Homo sapiens: one gene and its partners. The protein of the gene in region 3 purifies or fractionates together with the protein of the main gene of each other region. This does not show direct contact. Each region holds a gene or a part of one and is shown on either strand. Other genes may lie near its edges.

What was found. The genes of interacting proteins can lie anywhere in the genome.
Region 1: the proteins of TMOD1 (region 3) and LRRFIP1 purify together in Homo sapiens (affinity purification with mass spectrometry; 4 studies listed by BioGRID and IntAct, with this or other methods). This does not show direct contact.
Region 2: the proteins of TMOD1 (region 3) and MYO5B purify together in Homo sapiens (affinity purification with mass spectrometry; 4 studies listed by BioGRID and IntAct, with this or other methods). This does not show direct contact.

The regions. Positions count from the first base shown.
Region 1 is NC_000002.12:237,623,735-237,630,598, forward strand, and holds the start of LRRFIP1 (leucine-rich repeat flightless-interacting protein 1), read left to right. Parts: upstream 1-3,852; 5' UTR 3,853-3,910; coding exon 3,911-4,006; intron 4,007-6,864.
Region 2 is NC_000018.10:50,192,136-50,199,166, reverse strand, and holds the start of MYO5B (unconventional myosin-Vb), read left to right. Parts: upstream 1-4,019; 5' UTR 4,020-4,373; coding exon 4,374-4,400; intron 4,401-7,031. UniProt on the Homo sapiens protein: May be involved in vesicular trafficking via its association with the CART complex. The CART complex is necessary for efficient transferrin receptor recycling but not for EGFR degradation.
Region 3 is NC_000009.12:97,539,652-97,546,675, reverse strand, and holds part of TMOD1 (tropomodulin-1), read right to left. Parts: intron 492-7,024; coding exon 335-491; intron 1-334. UniProt on the Homo sapiens protein: Blocks the elongation and depolymerization of the actin filaments at the pointed end. The Tmod/TM complex contributes to the formation of the short actin protofilament, which in turn defines the geometry of the membrane skeleton.

The DNA of each region.
Region 1 (6,864 bases), on a different chromosome or scaffold from region 3:
GGTTTTTACTCCAAAAAACATGAAAAAGTTACTGGAAGTGATGGTGTCCTGGGAAGGAAGAGGCATTTATTGGGGCAGGCATCATCCACTGATTTATTTTGGAAGTGCTGTGATTGAGCTACTGAAAGATGCACCTGAAAACGTCCAGCAGGACAAAGGAGACACCATTCACCTCCTGAGCAACACATAGACCCTGACCTCAGCCAGCCCCACTTCTGGGCAGAGTGCTGGCTCCAAGTTCCATGCGTGAGAGATGGCTCTCCTCTACGGGTCCTTCAGCATTCCTGGGGGGGGGCTGCAGTTCTCCTGCCCTGCTCCAGCTGTAATCCAAAGCAGGGCTTTCCATCCTCTGGGAACTGGAAGAGCAAGGCTGGAGTGCTGGTGAAAGAGGTTTGAGGTAGGCCCACGCGGATGATGCTCTCAATGGACCCAGAGTGAGTCACGTTATGGCCCACATGATGGCTCAGATGGCTCTCTGCCTGAGAAGCTCTGAGTCCTCATGCAGACTGGACGCCCCTCCGTAGCTGCTCATCAACTTCCTTTCCCAGCCAGCCCCCAGGGCTTGCCCACTGAGCTCCTGAACCAAGGCAAACTTGCGCTGGGGACGGCGCCGCTGTGTGGTTTCCCTTGCCAAGGCTTCCCTGGCTGCCTCCACTTTCTCGTGGAGGCTTCCTGAAGGTGGCATCTGTATTTTTGTGAAGGGACTTGGTACCAGGCTTGGAGATGAACATGTTAATTCTCTGGCCCTGGACATCAGATCTGTGATATAGTTTCTCAATTTCCTGCTCTGAAGTAAGCCCTGGTGGGTAGTGTCACCATCTGGAATAGGAAAAGGGCTAGATGGGAGGGGTCAGTAGTGCTGGTGGCAGAGGCCAGTCTTCTCAGTGGAAACAGGCTCATGCACTTCCACGCAGGGAGGGCCGACGGTCAAGGGTGGAGGAAAAGCCACAATTTTTCGGTGAACCCATGGATCAGCATGATGGAGTCTTGCAGGTCTTTATCTTCCTCCAGGAGGCACCCCAAGCACGGAGAAGACCCACCAAGCTGCCTGATACCTCTGTCTAGCTCCCCTCTGCCCAGACAGGAACTGCTGTTCACCATTCATTCCAGACCTGGGCCTTTGAGGACAGGAGCTGTAAGGATGATTGATCGATTGCCTGTGTGTGAAGCCCTGGAAGGGCTCTTGCCTAGAATACTGTCCCTACCCTGACAAGGTAGAGGCCATGGTCTGGATGGCGGTGGCCCCCCCATTCATATGTCAAAACCTAACCCTCAATGCAAGGTGGGGCCTGCAGGTGACCAGGTCCTGAAGCAGAGACCTCATGAACGCGATGAGTGCCCTTACACAAAAGCCTGGAGGGAGCCCGTCTTCCACCATGAGATGACACACAGAAGGCACCATCTGTGAGGAATGGGCCTCAACCAGACACTGATTCTGCTGGAGGCTTGATGCTGGACTTCCCAGCCTCCACAGCTGTGAACAATACATTTCCGTGGTTTTATAAATGACCCTGTCTAAGGCGTTCTGTTACAGCAGCACAAAGGAACTAAGACAGTGGGCACCCGTATTTCCATTTAGAGGCGGAAACTGACTCTGAAGTGAGAACCGGTCCACTCTGAGAGCACATCGCCAGGGGAAGAGGACTGTAGCCAGGAAGTTGTTATGTCATGGGGTCATGGGAGGACCCAGCAATGTTGTTTCTGATGATTTCTGAAAGGCGGCTCTTTTCTGGAAGTGGACAGATGATGGGGGAGGGGCAGGAAGCTGAATTCACCACAGTGTCCGAGAACACTGTCTACCAGCGGGAGCTGTTCAGACACACCTCTGGCCAGTCCCCACGGCAGTGAATCTCCTGTCTCTGGACAACAATCCAACAGGGAAAGTGGGGAGGAGGGTTGGGAACTGAACTCTGTTCCACAAGTTCAACCACTGCACTCCACTAAGCAACTGGCACAGCCAGTCCCTGGTGAAGGCTTAAAGATGAGGAAGATGGGGTCAGCGCCTGCCCTCCTGGCCTCAACACATCAGGATGGAGGATTTAGGTGTTAGCAAAAAGTGGCTCAAAGTTCCAATGAAGGACAGGGAGCAAAGGGAGACTTCTTTTAGAAAGGAGACGTTGGAACTTGGATATGGCTTTAGTTAAGGAGCTCCAGGCATCTCAAGTCAGCCCTGAGAGGCAGCAGCCGTGTCTGCCTCTCGGACAGCTATGCCCCAGCCTCCAGCTCAGCAGCTGGCAGGCAGCAGGTGTGGGTGCAGGAATGAGTGAACTCATGGGGACCAGCCTCGGCAAAGACGCACAGTCCCCACAGTGCCCCAGGGGCTGGGAAACAGTGAGCAGCCACCAGCAAGACCAAGGCAGTGCAAGTGGCCACGGCTCAAGGTTTCCCCCAAGGAGGACTATGTCACTTAAGGAGTATGGCCTCTGAAGTAATGTAAATATGGCCTGGAAGATTCAGTCAACACCTATTTCCTTAGTGCCTACAATGTGCAGGTGCAGTTTCTGCTCCCGGAGTTCAGTCATGAACAATGCCACAGTCAGCCCTGCCAACCCACCTGCGTCAGCTCAGGCACCCAGAGCAATGTCACCTGGATCTGCCCTCCCTCCCATGTCACTGGACTCGCTGTCTTTTCCCTGCAATGAAACCTCCAACAGCTTTCCCTGCCACTGTGGGTGGAAGGGCCCTCTTCCTCTTCCCACCTTCATACAGCTTCCAGGCCACCTCCTTAAGAATCCAAAGCAATCTGGTCACACCACTTGGTGGGAAATACACCGAAATGTTAACTGTCCTTATCACTGGGGGAAAAAAATCACAGGTGACTTCAGTACAGCCTCCTCTCCTCTACCATCACTACCCTCCCTCCCATCCTTCCCCAGGTCCAGCCACACTGAAGTTCTCCCCATACCCCAAACACACCAGTAACTTTCCCACCCGGTGCTCCTGCCGTGCCCTAGGCAGGGGCTTTTAACCCCTACCTAATCCTCCGATTTGCTTTACTTTTAAATCCACCTCTGGAGCATAGACTGTGAGCTTCAGAGAGCACAGGTAAGTTCATTACTTTTTCAACAACTAGGAGAGAGCTGCGACGCACCTGCCCCGATCCTAGAGGCTGGGGACCCACCAGAGAAGTGACAAGTCCTTGATCTCAGGGGGCAGACAGCGGGGAGAAGGATGGATGCTAGCACGGAGAACACGCGTGTAAAGACAGAAACGCACACATCCACACCATGCCGCTGTGAAGCCGGCGCCCAGGAGGCTGGCCAAGGTCACAGGAGCGGCGGTGGCGGGCGGATCCGAGCACCTCTCGGCCTGACCCCAGAGCCTAGCTCTCACCCCGGCGAGGGACTTCCACCCCGACTCACCGCGGAATGGGGAGCGCCAGGCTGAACCAAATCCTGTGCTCACCCCTCCGTGCAAACCCCTCAAGGCAACTCAGGCCTCTGAAAGCCTTCCTACCCCCCCGCTCTCCGCTCAGGTCCCCACTCAACCGGTGCCCACCGCCCTGGCGCGCGTCGCTCCGCGATTACCGGCCCGCCAAACAGTCCCCGCAAAGTCCACCCTCCGGGGCTCCCGGTCCCTCAGGTCCCGCGTGCCCGGCCCTGGGCATCCGCAGCGTCCCCGTGGTATCGGACCCCCATCGTCCCTGACACCTGGCGTCTCCGCCCCCCGCCCCCGTCCCCCGCCCCGCCGTCCCTGGCCCCTGCAGTCCCTGGCCCGCGCTGCGGACCTCCGGCTCTGGCTTCCCCCGGGTCCCCGCGGCCCCCGTCCCCCCGCGTCCCCGCGTCCCCGGCCCAGCGCCCGCTGACGCCATGACGCCGCGGCGGAGGGAGGGGCCGGGGCCGGGGCCGGGCCGGGGCGGCGCGAGCGGCTGGAGCAACGGGCCCCGCGGCAGCTGCGGGCGACGCGGTCGATGGACATGGGCACCCAGGGATCGGGGCGCAAGCGGCTCCCCAACCGGGAGCGGCTCACGGCGGAGGACGACGCGCTCAACCAGATCGCGCGGGAGGTGAGCGCTCCGGGAGGGCAGCCGGGGGGCGCCGGGCGGGCGCGGGGGCCGGACGGCTGTCAGGGTCTCTCCGGCGTCCGTCTGTCCCGCTGTGCGTCTGTGCCACTGCGCGTCCGGCTCCAGGCGGGTGGGCCGGGCAGGCGCGCGCCGGGGCGCTGATCCCCAGGCGCTGCGCCCCGGCCCCGATCTCCGAGGCCTGCGGACCCCGCACCCGTTCTCCAGCCCCGGGCCCAGCCCGCGACGCTGCGCGCCCTCCCCCACCCCGGCCACCGTCGGCCGCTGCGCCCTCGGGAGAGGAGCCGGGCGCCGCCAGCGCGCGAGGTGGCCCGGGCTGGCCGGGTGGGGGCGAGCGCCCCGCTTTGTTGTGCGGCATGGGAGGAGGCGGGGGCTTAGGCCCGACCTGGAGGCAGTGGACGGTCGCCGGAGGCCACATGGCCCTGCTGAAATGGCCGAGTCGCTCAGGTGACCATTTGTCATCCATCCATCGATGTCACTCAAGGTGCAGCTCAGAGATGAACTTGGGGATCACTGTGATTTTTCTTTCAGGACTGAGCCTGGAAACGGGTCCAGGCACACTGAAACGTCTTCATTAAAGTTTCCTGGACAGAGTTTATTGTAACTAAGATCATGTTTGGTGATGAACTTTACCTGTGACAAATTGAAGGCGCACTAGAATGGGTATTTGTACAAATGCCTTTTTTTTTTTCCTTCCGCAAGGATTCTACCTTAAGGCTAAAGAATGTACATGACATCCAGAAAGCCGTACAGGGACAGAGAGCAGCAGCTTGGGAAAAGGGGAGCCAATAGGTTGCGGCCCCAGGGGGACAAAGGAAGCTTAATTTTTGACTGTGTTCCCTTTGTACCATTTGAACTGTGTGCCAGGTGGGTGTATGAATGCAAAGAAAGTCTCTGCCTTGTAACCCGCCTTACAGGTTCTTTTCCGTGTTGGCTTTTCCACATGTGATTCTTCCCACAGGAAACACCTCCAAGCCATTTGGACTGTGGTGTCTGGCTGTATCCGTCAGATATTCTGGGGGATCTACTCTGTAACCAATCCTTAGGTGTTTGTAGTTGTAAATACCTGATTTTGCTCTTACGGACATGTGGCAGTCACTCAGTATTTGTTGACTACTGAGTGAATAAAGACTTCTGTTTTTCTCTGTATGATACAGAAAAGGGCTTTCCAGGCAAACCCTTATTCATTCCTGGAAGCCCACTGTGACCTCCAGGAGACCTTCCAGACTCAGCCCTCTCACATCGCACCAGGCCTAAGTCTCCCTGGCTCCACGGCCCTCCATGGCATGCCCGCGCCTGGCATGGCAGTCAGGATACCTTATCATTATTTGTCCACCTGTAGAAGGTGACACCCAGACAGGAAATATCTTACTTTTGTATCCCAAGAGCTCAGCACAGAGCCAGGCACATACTAGGTGTTTGTCTATGTCTGTTACATTAATTAATAAACAAAAGAAGTACAAGGCATTTAAAGGACCTTTGGCTAAATATAGACATTTGCTAAATATAGTAGCTTGAGTATAACTCCCTCCTGTGAAGACAGTCACTTATGTATGCATTTGACCACAGTGCCTTACAAGTGTTCCCTGCAAGGGCCAGAGGTGGCCAGTGAATCGCAAGCCTTGTCTTGATGTCAGTGGTTATGGGGCAGAAGAATGAGAAGAATGAAAATTTCCAGAGTTTGCCTTTTATCCACTGGTGTTTCTTTCTTCTTTTTTTTTTTTTTTTTTTTTTTTAACACAGTCTCACTCTGTTGCCCAGGCTGGAGTACAGTGGTATGATCTCGGCTCACTGCAACCTCCACCTCCCAGGCTCAAGAGATCCTCCTGCCTCAGCCTCACCAGTAGCTGGGATTACAGGCACGCACCACCACACCCGGCTAATTTTTGTATTTTTAATAGAGACGGGGTTTCACCGTGTTGGCCAGGCTGGTCTCAAACTCCTGGCCTCAAGTGATCTTCCCGCCTTGGCCTCTCAAAGTGCTGGGATTACAGGCGTAAGCCACTGCGCCCAGCCTATCTGCTGGTTTTTATAAAATAGATTGAAAAGGAAGGCAAGGGAACACTCCTTGGGTTGAGAGCCCTGAGGTCCTCCCTCCCACCGAGGGAGATGCAGTTGGAGTTACAGAGATAGACTTGTGAGTCAGAGCTGGGCTTTCAAATGACATAGTTCTTAGCCAGCTGTGCCATCCTAGGAAGGTGAGTTACTCACTCTTCTCTGGGCCTCTGTTTTCTCGTCTCTAAAATGGAGAAGAAGAAACCTCCCCTGGCTGTCAGAATTAAAGAAAGTGGGTAGCAATGTAAAGTATGTAACTAGGCGGTGGGTAAATATGAGAGCTTCTTACACGCCCCTCCCGGTAAAACCCAGCCGTAGGTGCAGCTGTTACTAGTGCTGAGTAGCACAGATTGATAGGGTTGGAGGGAGCAGGTGTGACATCTTATGTTTTAGTACAAATTAACTTCTATTTCTCAACTGTGAAAATGAAAATCACTATTCAAATGGCAAATATCTACTCCTTGAATTCATCAGGGTTCTTATAGAAATCAACAAAATCGTCTTGGGTTCAGTACTTTCTTATTCACTCATTGACTCAACAGATACAAGCCATGGTATCCAAATTCCTGTCCTGGGGAGACTGGAGAGTCAGGGAGGAACCCGGCGAGGACCTGCCTGCCCTCCAGGAGTTGGGTCAGAAAGGGGTTGACACCTGTAGATCAATAATGCTAACCGAAGACAGGAAGGGATCTGATATAAAAAGGGCGTAGACAGTGTTCTGAAGGTTTGGACATGAGAGAGAATCACAGCCGGCCAGTGGTCTCAGAAGTGGCTTCCTGGAGGAAGTG
Region 2 (7,031 bases), on a different chromosome or scaffold from region 3:
AGCCTCCCAAGTAGCTGGGTCTGCAGGCATGCTAATTTTTGTATTTTTAGTAGAGATGGGGTTTCACCATGTGGGCCAGGCTGGTTGTGAACTCCTGACCTCAAGTGATCCGCCTCAGCCTCCCAAAGTGCTGGGATTACAGGTATGAGCCACTGTGTCCAGCCCATAAGAAAATAATTTTAACTGTCACTGTATAGTTTATAAACCGCTTTCACAGAAGGGCCAGTGAATAAGAAGCCTTCTTCTTAGTGGAATCCCTCCTCTCTTTCTTTGCTTATGCAAATTTTTCTGTTTAGTAATCCCTTTATTTTCTCTTTTCCACTAATTAATGAGCAGTACTTCCTTTAAGACTTGGCTCAAAACATATCTCTATTTACCTACTATTTACTGTGATCAACTTTGTGCAAGTCATGTTCTAGGAAGTGCAGAGGACACAAATATGGATCAGGTGTGGTCCCTGCCCTCAAGACTCTTAGAACCTAGTGGTGAGGAGGAGAAAGGGATATTAGTTCACATATCATACAGGGTGCAAATGAATGCCTTGGAAGTTCACTTTTTATTATTTGTGTGAGGGAAATCCTCACCTGTCAGGAAGGAGACTAAGGCATTTCCAACAGGTATCTTCTTTTTACTTTGAGAAGCCGTGGAGCACAGAGCAATGTTTCTCAAAGTGTGGGCCCTACACCACCTGGGATATGTATTAAATTTGCAGACTCATAGGCCGGGCATGGTGGCTCACGTCTGTCATCCCAGCACTTTGGGGGCCAAGGTGGGCAGATCACCTGAGGTTGATCCATCTCTGCTAAACCCCGTCTCTACTAAAAATACAAAATCAGCCAGGCATGGTGGCGCATGCCTATAATCCCAGTTACTCGGGAGGCTGAGGCAGGAGAATCGCTTGAACCCGGGAGGCGGAGGTTGCGGTGAGCTGAGATGGCACCACTGCACTCCAGCCTGAGCAGCAAGAGCAAAACTCCATCTCAAAAAAAAAAAAAAAAAAAAATTCAGACTCATTGATCATGTCTCTGACCAACTGAATTAACATCCCCTGATAGCCCCTTAATCCTGGTACACACTGAAGTTCAACATCCATTGACATAAAAAGCAAGGGTTAGACGCTCGAGTGAGACTTTAATTGAACAGTAGCTGTCTGACCTAGAGTGTTTTTCACACCCTTCTTCCCTAAGCCTCACTTTGCCCATCTGTGAAACAGCCTTAATATTCTGAACCTCCTTTATAAGGTTGCTCTGAGGCTTCAACAGGATCACAGAAGTAAAGCGCTTGGTATGTTTCCTGGATCAAGTAAGTTTTAAAATGTCTTTATTGTTCAAAGGAGGGAAACACCATATCTGATTGTGGAATTAGAAATTCACAAAGCTCTGGCCAAGTGTAGGACTCAGGAATGCGATTCAGTTCAGTTAACATGAATTGAGCTTTTCATTTGTGCCAGGTGTGATGGAAGCCAGACAGTTGGAACCAGTTACGGGTGGGGAGAAAGGATGGAAACAAATGAATGTCAGGTTGGTCCGAGGTCCAAGTGGCATTGTTACCATTGCCTATCTGCAGGTGGAAAGGTGGATCTTGAGTAAGGTTAGAATTAGATTTGAGAATTAGCATTGTGAGCAAGAGACAAAATGGGGGCGTGGCTGAGAAGAAAGATGAGATCTCTGAAATGGAGCATAGTTTTATTCAGAAACCAGGAAGAGGACGCAGGCCTAGAAAATAATGTTGAGAAGGTTTGGTTAGAGAGGCTGAGAAAACAAGAGAAAAATAGTACTCAGGGAAGAGATGGTTTAACGTAATGGGTTGAATCAATTCCCACCCCATGCTTCACAGTGATGAGGCAATTTCAATAGGATAGGTCTGAGTGGAAGCCAAATAAGAAGAAATTAGAACAGCAACATTTATTTATTTATTTATTTATTTATTTATTATTTTTTAAAGATGGAGTCTTGTTCTGTCACCCAGGCTGGAGTGCAGTGGTGTGGTCTCGGCTCACTGCAACCTCCACCTCCCAGGTTCAAGCGATTCTCCTGCCTCAGCCTTCCAAGTAGCTAGGATTACAGGCATGCGCCACCACGCCCAGCTAATTTTTGTACTTTTAGTAGAGACGGGGTTTCACCATGTTAGCCAGGCTGGTCTTGAACTCCTGACTTCAAGTGATCGGCCCACATTGGCCTCCCGAAGTGCTGGGATTATAGGCATGAGCCACCACACCCGGCCAGAACAGCAGCTCTTAAACTTGGCTGCCATTAGAACCATCTGGGAGCTCTTCAGAATCCTTTCACCCAGGGCAACACCCCCCAGACAAGTTAAATCAGAATTTCTGGGAGTGGGAACCAGACATCCACTTGTTTCAAAAGTGATTCTGATGTGCATAAAGTGTTGAGAATCAGAGAATTAAGGAGGTACTGGGCGTAAGTGGAGATAGCTAAATAAGTGAAGCTACTGCTTTAAGAAGTTTAGCAGGAGAGGAAAACACAAAAAGCCAGGGGCCAGTGGAGAGAGGAAGAGTTGCTGGTAGAGAGATGGGACCACTAATGGTGGTGGAGGAAGAGGCCAGGATCTAGGCAGGACTGATGACTTTCTTATTCAAAAAGGGGAGAATCACCTGGAGGCAGAAAGAACAATGAGTACTGGCCCCACACCAGAGTTTATGGTTCAGTAGGTCTGCAGTGGAGCCCAATAACTTGTATTTCTAACAGTTACCAGGTGATGCTGATGGTGGGCGTGGGGGGTGGGGACACACTTTAAGAGCTACAGGAATCCGGGGAAGGGAAATATGCAGAAAAACTTTTGAGGAAGAGAAAAAAATCCCTTTCTGCTCTTGCCACTGATGTGAAGAGTTCCATTTTTAGGTCCAATGAGAGCCGCCCAAGCTTTGGTCAATGCATTTGTCACCCTGGAAGTACCATCCTTTAGACTTTCAGAGGAGCTTTAAAAATTGGGATACCCAGGTCCCATCCTTCATTATATCAGAATTCCTTGGGTTGGGGCCTCTTCCTTGGAACGCTTAAAGCTCCCCATGTGACTCTCATTGTGGAGGTGCCCATGGGAAGGCCTGCACAGGTGAATTACAACGGGATCTTGAGTTCCAGGTGGGATGCCTCTGAGAATCACCTTCTGGGGCTCTTGAACAACTGCCCCGGCTGGTACAGATATATCTTCCGGTTGAGAACCACTTTTCAGGGGCCACCCCTGGGTCAGGGACAGATGTCAGCTTCAGAAGGGAGTGTCTCCTCTGACAGCCCCTCGTCTCCCTCCACAGACTTCTGGCAGTTTTTTTTTTTTTTTCTTGGTTGAAATTTCTACTTTTCACTGGAAGTAGGAGAGGAGCTGAAGTTGCTGCAGGCAGCCAAGTGCCATGGTCAGAGAGGGAACACAAATAAACGAGGTAGTGAGTGGCAAAAGGACCCGGAGTCTGCATGTAGACGAGACGGGGGTTGGGAGAACGTGAGACTTCCCGGAAAAGCAGAAGCCCTCTGAGATGAGTGGCCTGGAGTCTCCTTGGAGGCTGTGGGCGAAAGTGGACAATATTTGTACAGAAGGAGTTACGACTCCCACTTTACTGACAAGGATTTCCGCGCAGAGAGTTCAGTTTGAAGGAGAAGATCCCTGGTGTATGTATATCCAGGTCGCCTTAATAACGATCTACGAGTAACTGAATTTTAATCATGAAAGCGCTGAATACAGCCAGGTAAAATCGAGGGCAATGTCTGGGGCCTTCCAGCCATAGACGCTTCTCTTTTTTCCCCCCTCTCTGGTTAGTTCCTCTTCCCTTTTCTTGTCTGCACCGCGTTCATGCCGGACTCCGCGGGGCCCGGTGCGGGTGGAAGCGGAGCGCGGCAGGGCAGGTGCGGGCGCCGGGGCGCACCTGTGCCTGCGCGCGCGCGGCGTCCAGCAGGGGGCGGCCCGCGCCGGTCCCGGAGCTCCTCTCTGAGCGCCCCGCCCCCGGCCCGGAGGCCCAGGTGGCAGCGGGGGCGCGGGAGGGCGCGTCGGGCCGGGCACCGGCAGGGCTCAGAGGCGCGGCGGCGCACGGGCCGTCCGCTCTGACGCGAGCGGGTCCTCCCTCCTCGCCGGCCCTCGCCTCCTCCCCACACCTGGGAGGGGAGTGGTGCGGCGCGGCCTCCTCCCCCGGCGCTCGCAACTCCTGTCCGGCCGTAGCTGCGCCGCCGCGGCGGGAGTAAAGGTCGCGCCGCCGGGAGCGAGCCGGCCGCGGCGCCTGCGGGAAGCCGGCGGGGCAGGTCGGAGAAGAGCGAGAAGATCGAGAAACTCCAGGCCAGCCCGGGAACATGGCGCCAGGCGGGCCAGCCGCGGACTGAGAGCCGCGGGGCAGCCAGGAGCCGGGGCCCGAGCCCCGCCCGGCCCGGGCCATGTCGGTGGGCGAGCTCTACAGCCAGGTGAGCGCGGCCGCGAGGGAGGCGCCCCGGGGCCGGGGTGGCGCGCTCGGGGCCACCTAGTACTCAGGGTCGCCTTCTCCCTCGGCTACTGGAGGCGGGAGGTGACGGGAGACCCCCCTCCGCGGTGTCCTCCTCGTCACTGTCCTCGGAGTCCCTAACTTCGGTTGGCGGAGAAAGTTTGGCGGTTCCGGGAACGCCCGCACTGACCGGCCACCCGGCTCCTAGAGGTTCCGCAGCGCCACGGCTCAGCACCAAGCCAGGGCTGTCGCCCCCTCCCCGCCGCGCCCCTCACTTTCGTTGCCTGGGCTCGGCTCCAACCGAGTTCCCCGAACGGCAGGGCGACCCTGCCAGCTCTGAGCGCCGTGCGCGGGACGGGCCCCCGCGGTGCTCCCGCTGCTGTCCCCTGTCCCCGCCGTGGACCCCACCCCAGGGGCTCTGCGGCGCCGGCTCTCGAGGGCGCGCCTCCGAGGCGTCCTTTCCTCCCGCATACCCACAACAGGGAACCCTGGACTTGGGAGAGGTGGGGGTTCTGGACTTGGTGGAGAGGGAGGAGACAACCTGGCGTGAGGGCGCGGCGGCTGGATGGAGTGAGGGTAAGCAATGGGTAGAGGGGTGCGCCGTTATCTCCGGAGACCCCAGGGAAGAGCATTGTGAATTTGCTGGGGATGGATGTTTTGACGCGGCCTCTTTGGTACAAAGAGGGCTTCAGTGACTGCGGGGAGGGGGTTGGAGTAAAGTCGAACCGGGAGCAGGGTGTGAGTTTCAGGATGCCTTCAAGGTCAGAAGGGATGTGTGAGGCTGGGTGCTCCGAATCGGGAACAGGTGCAGCCCGGGCGGAGACGCCCGCGTTCCGCAGCAGTTGCTGTGGTTAAAGTTAGGGACAAGCCACCGCTTCCAGGGGAGCTCGCGGCAGCGCTGCAGCCGCCCGGGACCCCTCGAGTTTCAACCTGGAGTCAGTAGTGAGAGGGGCAAAGGCCTTTTCTTCACATGTGCCCTATGCACCTTTAAGAAAACAAGTTTTGGATAGTCCAATGCCTGGTTTTCCTGTTCGTCTTCTTGGGTGGCCAAAACACGTTTAACAGTGCCTATGCACACGCCTCCATGCAGAGTTGTGTGTGCGTGTGGTGTCCACGCGCGTTGCGTGGGTATGCGATTCCCGGGACACCCGCCCGGGCCAACAGGTCTGGGCTGGGTAGGAACAGTCACTTCCGCGTCCTTACCTGGCGATCACACGCGGCTGTCTAGCCCATGTGGGAGCCCTTCGGCTCCGTGGGCTGGCCACCCTTCTAAGTTTGAGGAATTATTCAACTCTCCCATTCCTCCTGGAGGGGAGCAGGGCCGGGATGAGTTCATGCTCAGGAAGGTGGCCGCGGAGGCTGTCACCTGGCTGGGGGTGGGGCCGCAGCAGCCTCAAATACAGCTTCCGAGCCCACCAGGGGCCACCTGTGCAGCGATCAGGGATGGGCGACGGCCTCTGGGGGAGGAGGGGAGGAGGTGGGAGCCAGGGCGTGAACTCTGTGACAGTCCTGGCCCTGGAACGGCACCCCACCCCTCTTAGCTGTGGAGGTATTGGGAGGATCCCTAAAAGCTCAGCTTTCAGTTCTTTCACTGAAGCCGGTTAGGTTTTCAGGAGCTGGGACTGGAGGCTGGAAGCCAGTGAGGCAGGGGAAAAATCTGAACTGGAGTGCTCAAAGAGCCGAAGCTTTGTTACATTAAAGTGCATGGAGATACAACTTGTGCTCCTAAGTAAAAGGAGTGACTCAACTGAATATACCTACAATGTGTCAAAGTCCTTTGTCAGGCAATATTGAATTGCTGTATTATATGAGGGGGAAAGTTTGTGGGGGAAAAATGGAGTTAAAAGATTAAAAATATAAACTTTATTTCTCAACACAGTTTCCATCAAGTTCAAGACACTTTTTTAAGTTATACCAGCCACTTAGTTCGTCCCTAAAGAACTGAGGGTCCTGGGAATTTAACCATGTCAATGCAGTCTCTTTTACATTATTAACTGGAAAAGATGCAGGTCATTTAGTTCAAGATTAGGACACAAAGTCAGAAGGAGCCAAATCAGGACTGTGAGGTGGACGCCTAATAGTTTTCCACAGAAACTCTTGCAAAATTGCTCTTCTTTGAGAGGAATGAGAAGGAGCATTGTTGTGGCAGAAAAGGACTTTCTGGTGAAGTTTCCTGGGTGTTTTTCTGCTAAAGCTTTGGCTTCCTAAAGACACTCATAATAAGCAGATGTCTTCATCATTTGGCCTTCTAGAAAGACAACAAGCAAAATGGCTTGAGCATTCCCCCAAAATGTTGCTGTGATCTCTGCTCTGAACCAGTCCATCTTTGCTGTGACTGGACCTCTTCCACCTCTTGGCAGTCTTTGCTTTGATTGGGCTTTGTCTTCAGGATTGTACTGGGAGAGCCACATTTCATCCCGTTACAATTCAAAGAAATGCTTCAGGGTCTTGATCTCACTTGTTTAGAATTTCCATCGAAAGCTCTGCTGTTGTCTGCAGTTGATCTGGGTGCAGCAGTTTTGGTATCCATCAAGTGCGAACTTTGCTCAACTTTGTTTTCGGTCAGAATCATGTAAGCTGAACCAATTGAGATGTCTGTGGTGTTGGCTATTGT
Region 3 (7,024 bases):
GTCGTTATTAACAGTTTCTTCTTTTACTCTCAAAACTGTTTAGGTTTGCGTAAAAAAATAATCAGGACATCCTAGTGAAAGAGGGTTTAGGGAAAAGTTTTGCTGATTTGAGTGGATAGGAGTCTTTCCTCAGTCTACCCCCAAAACTTCATGAAATCTACATCATCCATAGATGCTTTTGAAGTTGGGTTTGGGTGTTTTGGCCAGGCAGGGATGAGGACAAGGAGGCCCAGTCACATTTGGCCCAACACAGGGCCTGGCAGGGCCTGGCATACAGTCGGCACTCAATGGTGCATGGGGAGTGGCATATTATAACAGTAACATTGTTCAGTACCTCGTTTTTCCCCTGTGTAGGGGACCAGATCTTCTCGGTCCTTAAACTCCTTTGCTTGCTTTTCCAAGTGATCCAAGAGCTCCTCTCTTTTAAAGGGGCCCGTGGGCGCCTTGGTGGTCTGATCCTTCTGCCTCAGGCCTGCAGGCAGCAGTGCATTCTACATTGGAGGTTGTGGGGGGGCAGGAGAGAGAGAAAGAGAGAGAGAGAAAGAGAGAGTGGTCAGCTGCTGAAGACTTGCACTTCTCCAGAAACTCATCATCGAACAGAAGGGACCTCAGAGCTCATGGAATCCATGGTGTTCCTCGTTTTACAAGTAAGGAATCTGAAACCCCAGGACAGGGAGGGACTTGTCCAAGGTCAAAGGCAGACAAGGGGCAGAGAGAGGCTAGGACTCAGGTCTCAATCCTCCAGCCCATCCCTGCCTCTAACATTTTTGAAGGAGAGGAGGTGAGGGGTCAAGGCAGCCGACTCCAGTCTGAGCACAGAGGGCACTGAAAGAGCATCTGCTGAGTGATGAATATGATTGAGTTGTTGTTTGGATGCATAAAGATATTCACAGGAGTTGAGTTGAGTATCAGGTGGCTCCGGAGAGAGAAGAAGCCAAAAGAGGGTTAAGCTGGGGCCCTGGATGGAGAATCAGGCAGGAAGAGGCAGACCAAAAAAAAAGCTGGAGAAAGGCCCAGGAAAGCAGCGAGGTGAGCAGTGCCCTGCAGAGCTAAGAGGAGGACGGGGCATGCTCTCTGGCCACAGTCCCTGCTGGCCCTACCCGCTGCCTTCTAACCTCCTGACGGGTCTGTGCTCACAACACACTGGTGGTTAAATATTTTGAACGTCGCCCCTGGAGATGGGTATCTCAAGAAACATAACATCAACCAATTGTTCCCTTCTCTTCTTCAAACATAAGCAGGCTTCTAGGTGTGGGCTTACTGCTAAAGCAGATTCCTATTGGGGGGATTGGAGTTATCCTCATGGGCTTCACTTTAACTCAGCCCCCAGTACCTTAGGGAGTCAAAGAAGTTTATAGCTGCAAGGATGCTTAGAGATCATCAGTGCACACACTCTCCCATTAGGGGAACTGAGGCACAGAGCAAGGAAAGATTTGCCCAAGGAATTTCAGGACAGATCTAGAACAAAAACCAGCGTTCTTCTTCAGATTTACGAGAGGAGGATGACCATTTCTAATCGTTGTGTGCTCCCTGTTCCCTGCATTTGCAGAGCTAGAGGAATACATGGGTGGCTGGTATGGGCAGAACATCACCCAAAAGATATGCACCCTCAAACTGACTAAACTGAAGAGTCATTCCACCTCCAACCTTTTTTTTTTTTTTTTTGAGATGGACTCTCGCTCTGTTGCACCCAGGCTGGAATGCAGTGGCGCAATCTCGGCTCACTGCAACCTCTGCCTCCCAGGTTCAAGCGATTCTCCTGCCTCAGCCTCCTGAGTGGCTGGGATTACAGGTGCCTGACACCACGCCCGGCTAATTTTTTGTATTTTTAATAGAGACAGTGTTTCACCATATTGGCCAGGCTGATCTCGAACTCCCAAACTCAAGTGATCTGCCTGCCTTGGCCTCCCAAAGTGCTGGGATTACCGTTCCCAGCCCCACTTTCAATCTTTGTACCATTAAAATGCATATCTTCAGTCACTGTCACAAACTCCATATCCTTTTCTGAAAGCTGCCTCTGTGAGGGGACTGTTATCAGGGATATGAAGATCACTGTATGCCTGGCACATAGAGGGATACAGCTTGGGAGGGAATACTACTGTTTAAGGAATCTTTTTAATTTTTTTTACTTTTTTTTTTTGAGACAGAGTCTTTCTCTGTCACCAAGGCTGGAGTGCAGTGGTGTGATCTCGGCTCAATGCAACCTCCACCTCCCGGGTTCAAGCAATTCTTCTGCCTCAGCCTCCCGAGTAGCTGGGACTACAGGCGCATGCCACCACACCTGGCTAATTTTTGTATTTTTAGTAAAGACAGGGTTTCACCATATTGGCTAGGCTGGTCTTGAACTCCTGACCTCATGATCCACCCACCTCGGCCTTCCTAAGCCCTGGGATTACAGGCATGAACCACCACATCTGGCCTAACTAATGCATCATTTTTTAAAAGGTGTACTATGCATAACACCACAGTGCTGTTTCAGTAAGAGTAGTGGCTGTAAGATCAGGAGACCGGGGTGTGATCCTGCCTCTGGGAGGGCTGTAAGTGAGCAGGGCCCACCCAGCACAGAGCCCGGACAGACAGATAATGGGCTTGGCAGGTGGTGCTGGTGTACTTGCAGAGAGATTTAGGCCACAGATCAAAAGAGACACTGGGAGTTGGAGCTTTTTATGAGAGGACAGTAGGTAGAAAATCAAGGCCTGACTGACTTTGGGGTGGGGGGCATCAGGAACATAAGTGATGCTCCACACATCCCACTTTTCCTTAAGCAGCAGTTCTCAGATATTGTCCACCATGATAGGCAGGACAGGTGATGCTCCCAGGTGAGCCATGCTTCTGTGGGCATGTCCCAGGTTTGATGGGACTTCCTGTAGCTAGCTGTGTGTGCCCACGCCTTCTCTTCCACAGCAGGGAGCTTATGGTGATGCAAGAGAGTGAGACAATACCTCACTGCCCTGCAAACATCAATGTGTGACTACCCATAATGAATAATCCAAAGTCTTTGTGACATGCCTGCACTTCACAGTTGACCCTACATCAGGCTTAAGCCCTGACTTGGAGTAATAATGATACAACTACACAATCTTGGGCAAGTCCCCTAAATCTCATTGTGCCTCAGTTTCCATGGCTGTAAAATGTGAATAATGAGAGTTGCTCTCTCATAGAGTGGTTGAGAAAATTAAACTAGATAATGCAGAAAATGTGCTCAGCACAGTGCCTAACATAGTAAACGGTCAAAAATTATTACTTATGATCCCTTCTATTGTTATATAATCAGGTAGAATATATGTTAATAGGAGATTGGTTACCCAAATATGTATGTTTAACAGGGAATGTATTATCCAAATATAAATTCAAAAAACTAAAACACACAATTATAAAATGAATTAAGCAGTGAAAGCAAGTGCTCATGCTTCTTAAGGATCCCCACAGGGAAGGCCTACAGATTTTCATTACCATAAAGGGTTTTAATGGCAGTAAGATGCTGGGGCATGTTCTGGCCCCAGAAAGGCTAAGTATTGCGATAGAAGAAATTCAGGGGTTGTAACTGAGGGGAGAAGGGTTTGCAAACTCTCATCTCTTTTCGAATCTATCTGGTAGAGGCCACGGATTTAGTTAAAGCAGAGTTTCTCAACCTCAGCACAACTGACATTCTGGGCTGGACACTTCCTTGTTGTGGAGGCCACTCTACCCACTGGAGATTGTTTAGCAGCCTTTCTGCTCTCTATCTCCTAGATGCTAGTAGCACTGCCCCCAGTTGTGACAACCAAAAATGTCTCCAAACATTGCCACATTTCTTTTATTTTCTTCCTTTTTTTTTTTTTTTTTTGAGATGGAGTCTCACTTTGTTGCCCAGGCTGGAGTGCAGTGGCGTGATCTCGGCTCACTGCAACTTCTGCCTCCCGGGTTCAAGCAATTCTGTCTCAGCCTCCCCAGTAGCTGGGACTACAGATGCCCACCACCATGCCCGGCTAATTTTTGTATTTCTAGTAGAGGCGGGGTTTCACCATGTTGGTCAGGCTGGTCTTGAACTCCTGACCTCAGGTGATCCACCAGCCTCGGCCTCCCAAAGTGCTGGAATTATAGGCATTAGCCTCCATGCCCAGCCACCAAATTTCCTTTGAGGGGCAAAATTGCCCCTGATTGAGAGCCACTGCATTAAACAAAAAGCCATATAATTATAACATGTTATATAATACAGATTTTTTAATGTATTTCAAAAATATTATTTACATAACATAAAAATATGGCTTCATTTATTCAAGTCTTTATTGAAAGCAGTTGATTTGTAAAAACAAAAATGTCAAAGGCCTTTTCTAATAACTCTAAGCTTATCACATTTTTAAAGTAAATATTGAGAATATCAGCCTCATTAGAGGTTAAAGTTTGTTTTCTTTCTATTAAATGGTATGTTTAACAAAATATCACATGATTGTCAGTAAAACCAAAGATAGATGCATATTTTTAAACTCCTGATTGTTTACCACTTTAACTCGTTTTCAAAAACAGCATGTGATCTCCCATTATATATAAAAACTCAAAGTGAATCAAAGACCTAGATATAAGAACTACACTATAAAACATTTGGAAGAAAACATAGGCATAAATCCTTCTGATTCTGGATTAGGCAATGGTTTCTTAGATAAGATATCAAAGCAATAAGCAACAAAATAAAAAAGTAGATTACTTGGACTTCATTAAAATTAAAAACATTTGTGCTGCGAAGGACACTAGTGAGAAGACAAACCACAGATTGGGAGGAAATATTTGTAAATCATGTATCTCATAAGAGTTTCATATCTAGAATACATAAAAATCTCTTACAACTCAATAATATATGACAAATAACCCAATTTAAAAATGGGCCAGGCGTGGTGACTCACACCTGTAATCCCAGCACTTTGGGAGGCCAAGGTGGGTGGGTCACCTGAGGTCAGGAGTTTGAGACCAGCCTGGCCAACATGGTGAAACCCTGTCTCCACTAAAAATACAAAAATTAGCCGGGCGTGGTGGTGCATGCCTGTAATCCCAGCTACTCAGGAGGCTGAGACATGAAATTTGTTTGAACTCAGGAGGCAGAGGTTGCAGTGAGCTGAGATCACGCCGCTAGACTCCAGCCTGATCAACAGAGTGAGACTGTCTCAAAAAAAAAAATAAAAAATAAAAAATAAAAAATAAAAATGGTCAAGTGGCTGGGCACAGTGGCCCATGCCTGTAATCTCAGCACTTTTGGGAGGCTGAAGCAGGCAGATCACCTGAGGTCAGGAGTTCCAGACCAGCCTGGCCAACATGGCGAAACCCCGTCTCTACTAAAAATACAAAAATTAGCCGGGCATGGTGGCGCACATCTGCAGTCCCAGCTACACGTGAGGCTAAGGTGGGAGGATCCTTTGAACTTAGGAGGCAGAGATTGCAGTGAGCTGAGATTGTGCCAATGCACTCCAGCCTGGGTGACAGAGCTCCATCTCAAAAAAATAAAAATAAAAATAAATAAATTTTTTAAAATGGGCAAGTGATCTGGATAGACATTTTTCCAAAGATTATATAAAAATGGCCAAAAAGCTCATGAAAAAATGCTCAATACTATTATCCATTAGGGAAATGCAAATCAAATCCAGAATGAGATACCATTTCACAGCCAGCAGGATGGCAATAATAAAAAAACACAGATAATAACAAGTACTGATGAGAATATAGAGCAACTAGAACTCTCATACACTGCTGGTAGGAATGTAAAATGATACAACCCTTTTGGAAAATAGTTGTGCAATTTCTCAAAAAGTTAAACATAAAGTTACCATATGATGCAGCAGATGTATGTCCACCCAAATGCTTGTACACGAACATTTATAACAGCATTATTCATAATAACAAAAGTACGAACAAGTCTAATGTTCACCAGCTAATGAATGGATAAGACAAATGTGGTATACCCATACAATTGAATATTATCAGCTGTGAAAAAAAACGTAGTACTACAACGTGAATGACCCTTGAAAACATCATACTAAGTGTAAGAAGCCAGATACAAAAGGCCATGTATTATACAATTCCATACAATATATGAAACGTACAGAACAGTCAAATCTGTAGAGACAGAAAGTAGATTAGTGGTTGCCTAGGGCTGGTGTTATGGACTGGAATGTGTGCCTCCAACTCATACGTTGAAGCCCTCACCCCCAGAGTGACTATAATTGGAGACAGGGCCTGTAAGGAGATCATTAAAGTCAAATGAGGTCATAAGGGTGGAACCCTGATCTGATAGGATTGGTGTCCCTATAAGAAGAGATACCAGAGAGCTGCTGCAACACCTCCTTCCCCAACCAGTCACCGTGAGAACACACAGAGAGAAGCTGTTGTCTGTAAGCCAGCAAGAAAGTCTTTACCAGAAACTAACCCCTCAAGACCCTGATCTGGGACTTCTAAGCCTCCGGAATTGTGCAAAAATAAGTCTCTGTTGTTTAAGCCACCTAGTCTGTGGTATTTTGTTAGAGCAGCCTAAACAGGTTAATACAGCTGGGAAGGTTGAAGGGAGATGGAGAGTGACAGCTAATGGGCATGAGGTTTCTTTTTGAGGTGATGAAAATGTTCTAAAATTGATCATGATGGTTATACGACTCTGTGAATATGCTAAAAGAACAAACCAATGAATGGCGCATTTTTGTTTTCTTTTTCTTTTTTTCTTTTCTTTTTTTTTTTTTTTTTTTGAGACAGAGTCTCACTCTGTTGCCCAGGCTGGAGTGCAGTGGCATGATCTCGGTTCACTGCAAGCTCCGCTCCCCACCTCCAGGTTCACGCCATTCTCCTGCCTCAGCCTCCTGAGTAGCTGGGACTACAGGCGCCTGCCACCATGCTCGGCTAATTTTTTGTATTTTTAGTAAAGACGGGGTTTCACCATGTTAGCCAGGATGGTCTCGATCTCCTGACCTCGTGATCCGCCCGCCTCGGCCTCCCAAAGTGCTGGGATTACAGGCGTGAGCCACCTCACCCGGGCTGAATGGTGCACTTTAAGTGGATGATTGTATGC